2 linked regions of the Homo sapiens genome follow. The protein of the gene in region 1 interacts with the protein of each later gene in a biochemical or structural test. Each region holds a gene or a part of one and is shown in the gene's direction. Other genes may lie near its edges.

What was found.
Region 2: the proteins of ABI1 (region 1) and ITGA4 form a complex in vitro, tested with the Homo sapiens proteins (one study listed by IntAct).

Annotation. Positions count from the first base shown.
Region 1 is NC_000010.11:26,770,261-26,774,091, reverse strand, and holds part of ABI1 (abl interactor 1), read left to right. Parts: intron 1-3,002; coding exon 3,003-3,017; intron 3,018-3,746; coding exon 3,747-3,831. UniProt on the Homo sapiens protein: May act in negative regulation of cell growth and transformation by interacting with nonreceptor tyrosine kinases ABL1 and/or ABL2. May play a role in regulation of EGF-induced Erk pathway activation. Involved in cytoskeletal reorganization and EGFR signaling.
Region 2 is NC_000002.12:181,477,580-181,481,410, forward strand, and holds part of ITGA4 (integrin alpha-4 isoform 1 preproprotein), read left to right. Parts: intron 1-1,177; coding exon 1,178-1,245; intron 1,246-2,557; coding exon 2,558-2,687; intron 2,688-3,831. UniProt on the Homo sapiens protein: Integrins alpha-4/beta-1 (VLA-4) and alpha-4/beta-7 are receptors for fibronectin. They recognize one or more domains within the alternatively spliced CS-1 and CS-5 regions of fibronectin. They are also receptors for VCAM1.

The DNA of each region.
Region 1 (3,831 bases):
TTATATGAGGGATTTGAGCATCCTTGGATTTTGGTATCCATGGGGGTCCTGGAACCAAGCCTCCTTGATATACCAAGGGATGACTGGATTACTGTGTGTTTGTGTGCTTGTTTTTAAGCTTCAAAAGATTATGTGATCTAGGAGTTGTTAGATTTTATTATTGGTCTTAAAAGATAAGCTTAGATGTGTTACTTTTTTTGGAGTTTTAGTTTACAGTGATTCATGAATCGGGCAGCTTCAGACCACAGGAGACATGAAGCAGGTAGAAGTTCAAGAAAGCAAGACAAGCAAAATATTTGATTGGTTAGAAGTTAATTGTGGTTTCTGATTAGTAAAGTTCCTAGTTAGAGGTTAGTTGGAGGTTTCTGATTAAGTTTCTTTTAATTGTGTTTTGGTTTGCCTAAGTAGGAACCCAGAATGCTGGAGCCGTCTCAGCCTAATGGTCTCAGCCTAATGGCTTTCTGATTAATTTTTTTAAAACAGTGTAGAAACTAAAGCTTTATAATGTTTACATAGGAAGATTTTTTTTTAATTTTTATTTTATAAAGCAGAGGAGTGAGTTAAGAATCATTTCAAAGAAAGAATTGGCCTTGGCTGGGTGCAGTGGCTCATGCCTGTAATCTTGGCACTTTGGTAGGCTCAGGTGGGAGGATCACTTGAGGCCAGGAGTTCGAGACCAGCCTGGCCAACATGGTGAAACCCCGTCTCCTAAAAATACAAAATTTAGCCAAGCATGGTGGCACACAGTTTTAATCCCAGCTACTTGGGAGGCTGAGGCAGGAGACTCGCTTGAACCCGGGAGGCAGAGGTTGCAGTGAGCCAAGATTGAGCCACTGCACTCCATCCTGGGCAACAGAGCCAGCAAAAAAAAAAAAAGAATTAGCATTAGACATTTAGTGCCTATGACATACAAAACTATGATGTACTTAGAAGATAGGGAGGAATCAAAGGGAATTTCAAACAGATTCCAGGCAAATGGTAAAATTACTCATCCATAAAGGTAAATGTTAAGGAAACAAAGTGAGATTTTTTTAAAAAGAGACAGGGTCTCACTGAAGTGCAATAGCTCAATCACAGCTCACAACTTTCTAGGCTCAAGTGATCCTCCCTCCTCAGCCATCCAAGTAGCTGGGACTACAGGTGTGCGCCACTATGCCTGGCTAATTTTTTATTTTTTTTTTTCAAGAGAAGGGGTTTCGCCTTGTTGCCCAGGCTGGTCTCAAACTCTTGGGCTCAAGCAGTCCACCTGCCTTGGCCTCCCAAAGTGTTGGGAGTTACAGGTGTGAGCCACCGTGCCTAGCCTGAAATGAGATCTTAAGGAAATAAAAAAGTTTCATTTTGGATATATTTTGGGGATATTTAAATAAAAAATTTTATAGATTTCTAACAAAAATATTAGTATTTTGAGGTGTAAGATGTAGAGGTTATTTCCTACTAACACTTGCCAACATTGACACATCTGCATGTCTAATAACACTTAATAGAGGAGGCCGAACTTCATAAGAGGTTAAAGCTTATACCATTGCATAGTAGCACAGAGTTCAAGTAGAATTTTCATTCCCAATCTAATTCTTCTTTTATTCTTTCCATTTGGGACCAGCTTATACTTGAATGCTAATTTTTTTGTTTCTTATCCACTTGAAATGACAAATGAAGGAAGATATGTGGACATATTTAGAATATTTTCTTGGTTATTTTAGGATAGTATTTAGTATTATGTATATACATTATAAGATATACATTGCTATGTAAGTATATACTATACATGTATAGTATATATCATAATACAGATACTGAAGTATACATTAGTGTATTTTATCTTCAAGGATCCTAATAATGTTATACTCAAAATTTATTCTCTAGATGTGAAATGTCATGGTTAGGTAGGGTACCAGATGTTGTTTCCAGATAGAAGTAAGCAGTATCATTTTAAACAAATATTGAAGTGTACCAAATTTCTCGCACAGTTTCTATAAATGAGAATGTATCCAAAAGACACCAAATCTCTCCTTTGGATGATTTCCTTTGATACTGCCTTGTGGCCACCTGAAAAATGGTAGTTACTTGTTGAGAATGTCAGATGTTATTTAAAAAAAAAAAAAGCTTGAAGCCCCCAAATCTGTAAAAAATTAGACTCTAAAACCTGAAGATATTTTTTTTTAGTGGCATTGTACAAGTAGTGATGCTTTAGGACTACACATTGTTTCATGTTGTGTAGGCTAGTCAGCTTTAATAGAAGTAGCCTTTAGGATCAAAACAACTTTTCTTCAACTTTGAATTTTGACTTAACTGGCTCAGATGAAAACTTAGAACTAAAGCTACTTAGAACTTCCTATTAGTGTTGGCCTGCACAGGATTGGGGTTCAGAAGCTAGGAATGAGAGAGTTTTCCAGACCCTGTTTGTTTATTTCTTAGTTAGAATCTGGCTAAGTTATCACTGTGCATGATGAATTTGTTTTTAAACATCGAGATACTAGGTCCTTTTTTCATTTTTGGAAGCAATCTGTGGTTTTGAATTTTAATGTTTGCAGTTTATCACTTTTTAAACTATACTACCATTGAAGTAATGAATACTCATACTTGGACATTCATTATCCAGTAAAGTGTTAGGTCTCATGCACCGATATGTTAAAATAGCTTCACATCTAATGTGTTATGGTGTTTGTATTTAAATGAGCGTATTTTTAAAATCATCTGTTACTCGGTTGGATTAGTTCCATAGGACAAAATACTGACTTAAAAAATCATTGAGCCTGCATGAGATTGGAATAATTAAGTGGTGGTTTCCTTATGAATATAATTCTTTTGAAAAATACATGAAACACATGAGTATTTCCCCAGTACGTATGGATCTCTTTTTCTTTACAAAGTAGTTGAAACATGGCTGGAAAAAAGCTTATTAACATGAATTGAGTAACTGTAAATGTAAACCTGTCCTATCGGATATAACTTACCTAGCATTAATGTCTACTTTTTCCCCCCCTTTTTTTGCCAACGTAAAGTGGCTAAAAGCCAAGGTAAGAGCCATTACTTATCATTTGATCCACAGTATTTCCTCTGTATTGATAGAGGCTGCAGAGCCACTAAAATTTGAAAACTCTTCTTATGTCTGTCTGCTTTTCCCTGTAGGATTTATGTAGATTATTTAATACTCAAGTTCAGTTCAAATAAGCAACATTTAGCTTGGCTGTGTTAATATATCAATGATATATTGACATCTGTGTTTATATAGGAACATTAATTTTGCTAACATTTATTGCTTTGCTCATTTTTCGATAGTTGCCTTGCTTTCATTGACTTACAATTAGGAGGTTTCCCAGACATCATATGTGACTTTGTTACTGAATTGTTAGGATGAAGATGATTTTTCAGATGCGTATTTGAGCAAATTGACAAGTAAGATCTATAGTTTGTGTTCATGCACACATTTCAAAAATTTTAGGAAACCCAGTGTTTGAATGCAGATAAGTTTGATCTCAGTGAACATGTTTAACAATAAAATAAGATATTAAATCCAGTCATCTCACCTGTATTTGGCTACAATGTGATATAAATGGCATAAAATAATAGGAAGACCAAGTGCAAGTGGTTCCTTGACTTTTTAAACTGTAGTACCAAAGTCTTTATTCAAACTGTCTGGGAATCCTTAATTCACATTCTGATATTTAAAAAAAATAATACATGGTGTTAAAACACCAGGAGAACAATTTGATATAAAAATAAAAGCATTTCTTTCTACATTTTAGCATGGAAATAACCAGCCTGCAAGAACTGGCACACTGTCGAGAACAAATCCTCCTACTCAGAAACCGCCAAGTCCTCCCATGTCAG
Region 2 (3,831 bases), on another chromosome or scaffold:
AGTAGATGAAAAGGTGCTTAACATCACCAATCATCAAGGAAATGCAAATTACAAACCACTATGAAATATCACTTCACACCTATTAGAATTGTCATTATCAAAAAGGCAAGAGATAACAAGTGTTGGCGAAGGTGTGAAGAAAAGGGAACCCTTGCACACTGTTGGCTGGAATGTAAATTGGTACAGCCATTATAGAAAACAGTAGAGAAGTTACTCAAATTAAAAATAAAACTACCATATGGTCCAGCAATCCCTCTTCTGGGTATATATCCAAAGGAAATGAAATCAGTACCACATAAAGAGATCTGCGTTTTTATGTTCATTGCAGCAGCATTCACAATAGCCAAGTTACAGAAACAAGCTTAGTGTCCATTGACAGATGAATGAATGGATAAGGAATTGTGTGAGGTGTATATATACACACATATATACATAAACATATACAATGGAGTATTATTCAGCCTTTAAAAAAGGAAATTCTGACTTTTGTGACAACATGGATGACCCCGAAGGACATTATTTTAAGTGAAATAAGCTAGGCCCAGAAAGACAAATACTGTATGATCTCACCTATCTGTGGAATCTAAAAAAGTCAAATACATAGAGAAGAAGGTGAGCAGAGAGAGGGTTAGGAATAGGAAGATGTTGGTGAAAGATGTTGGCATTTGTGTAGGATGAATAAGTCTAGAGATCTAATGTACAGCATGAGGACTGGAGTTAATAATTGTGCACTGGAAATTTGCCAAGAGAGTAGATTTCACTCTAAATGCACAAAAAAGATGACCGTGAGGAGGTATGTAAAGTGTAGTAACTGTTTCACTATGTATACGCATATCAAACCTGATGTTGTACACCTTAGATATACACAGTAAAAAGAAAGCATGGGCTCAAAATCACAAATCCTACCTCTGTCTTACTCATTTGACAAAAATTTTTTGAGTATATGCTGTGTGTGCTTCCTATGAAGAAGCAGAGGGAGATATTTTTATTGCCATTTCATAGGGATATTTTGAATACTAATATGGAAGGGATTTGTTATATCAAGGTTACTGGTTTTTATTTTTAAAAAATACAAACTATAGACCTTAAAGGACATTTTTGTAAGGATTTAAGAAACAAATTATGGAGATTTTATCTTTAAGATAAAATTCTGAGTTGTTTTAATATTTCATTTTAGATTATGTGAAAAAATTTGGAGAAAATTTTGCATCATGTCAAGCTGGAATATCCAGTTTTTACACAAAGGTAATTGTTCAAAAAATAGCTGCTATAAATGTTTACATATAGAATCTTAATTCTTCTCATGGTTTGGAAGACTGATATGTTTTAAAGTAAAAATTGTGTAACATCTTCATCATGTCTCTTAAACTTGAGTATTACAACTTAATTTTTGCCACTCAAAATTCCACATATATTTCAATAAAATATCAATATTTAGGTGGCTATACTGCATAAGATGAATGAAAATCTATACTAAAGAACATTTCTTTCATCAACAATTTAATGAAAATCAAAAGTAGCTATGGTTAATTGTCTTGTTAACTTAGGTATTGAAAATATCAACCCAAGTATGTTATTTTAAATTTCTAGTTGAGGGGCAAAGGAAGAATATCAGTCTATATTTTTCATTAAATTATGATAATTGGGAAATTTAAGAATTTAATATCCCCTTAAATCAGATAGACAATATTCCCAAGATTTCTTACTCTCTTTCTAACATTCTAGGATATGTATGAAAGGGCACAGTTGTACTCAACCCCAAATCTCTCAGTTTTCTTAAAAACACACTGTGAATTCAGGAATGTTTTTTGACTCCATGAAGATCAGGCACTATATCAAGTTTGGGGTTGACAGTGTCTGCACATATTAACAGTTATATTAAAATGCTTACAAAGAAAATGCTTTCTTCAGTTTAAGTTGACTTTTTTTAAGTTTAGGATTGTTTAGGAGTATAGAAATATGCTAAAGATATTTAATTGCTGAAAGTGTTCATACTATACCAGGCAAGGGCATGCTCATTCCAATCTTCTCCTAAATTTTCCTCTGTATAACAAAATATGCCCCACATTCCATTGGACTTTTTTCCCTAAGCTAACATTATTAGAAATGTTTTCCCTAAGCTAACATTATTAGTCAGGGGTTCTTTGCAAATAGAAGTAAATTAAGTCTACTTTTTATTCTTTGGCAACACATGATTATCTCCATAATTAGCACTAATGAATTACCCACATACGATTTTCTTTAATAGGAACCACATTGCCTTTCTCCCAAAAGCTTACTCTAGCGTTCAGTACTTGTCCCTTCAACTTTTGAAATCCACTGATAAATGCATTGAATGAGAGTTTCAGAGTTTCTTCTCTGAGATTTCGCTTTTAGAAATCCATTAGCCAACTTCTCTGGCTTTTTTTTTTTCCTAGTATGTTTTAACTTCACAGAATATTCCTACTTCAGGAATTGATTATTATAAAAATATGTTCTCTTCACTATCGTGTATCTGGAGGAGGTTTGGGGTGGTGAGATTAAAGTTTAAATAATAATAGTTTTTTTTTTCTTACAGGATTTAATTGTGATGGGGGCCCCAGGATCATCTTACTGGACTGGCTCTCTTTTTGTCTACAATATAACTACAAATAAATACAAGGCTTTTTTAGACAAACAAAATCAAGTAAAATTTGGAAGTTATTTAGGTACTATAAAAATTGACAAACTTAAATGATCTGTGCCTTACAAATACTAGTACTGTAATTATAAATAAGGAAAATGTATTTTCCAAAGATCTAAATGGCCAGTATAATTACAGTAATAATTAGGCAGTTCAGAAACTGTCTCTTAAGGATAGGATTTATGAAACTTCAGTGAACTCAGTATTTTACATTTACACATGTGACTAAAATCATCAATATATAATTCTTAATAGAACTCCTAGTTTAGTTTACTCTTTGTAGTTCACTTTAGGAAACACTAGTAAGTTTCTATCTCTATGTAGTCAACTGATTATACAGGTTGTTTCTGTTGAGTGCCTCCCATATCTCAGGAACTTTTTGTGAGAACTTTACATGAATTAACTCATTTAAACATCTGCATAAGTAAGTATAGTTTCCTTAAGCACCAACTGAAAGCCAGTGGTACTGTCCACCACATTCTGGATGAGGGGCTCCATGAAGCACATGGGTCTAAAAACAGCTCATTGACCTTCACCTCATAAGTTCTTAGAATATTTCCCAGAGCTTAACTATTTTTATCATCTTCCTCCTCCTCACTGTCATCTCATAAGTCAATAGTAGGATACTTTATCATCTGTATTTCAACAGAAATGCAAACTTTTCTGGCATTAATGTCCATTACAAGAAAATAAATGCTTTTCCTATAGATTTTCAGAAAATCCAGCTTTGTTTAAACTGTATGTGTGTCAAATGTGAGCATCTTACACTCAGAAATAATTATAAAATAAGCACTCTTTCTTTCTATTCAAACAGAAGAAATTTCAAGTAGAAGAATTTGTTACAATTCAATGTTTTCTTGTTTATGATGAAAGGATACTTTGAAATCGTTCAAGAAATATAACTTGTTACGCCTTTTATCACATAAAATACGAACAATTTTTTGTCATCGAAAAGTCATCACAAAGATTTGGTGGCAAAAAAAGTTGAACTTCAGCAAGATGTTTATTTAAAGTTTAAAGTTTTCATTTCCCAATTGAGATTTTATATTTAATATACTCTAAAATATGTCTGTTGTAATCCTAGAAACTGATTATACTGCACCAGATGTAAAGATGCTATTTTCAATTTCTAGGACTCGGAAATACATACCATATGACTGCAGTTTTGT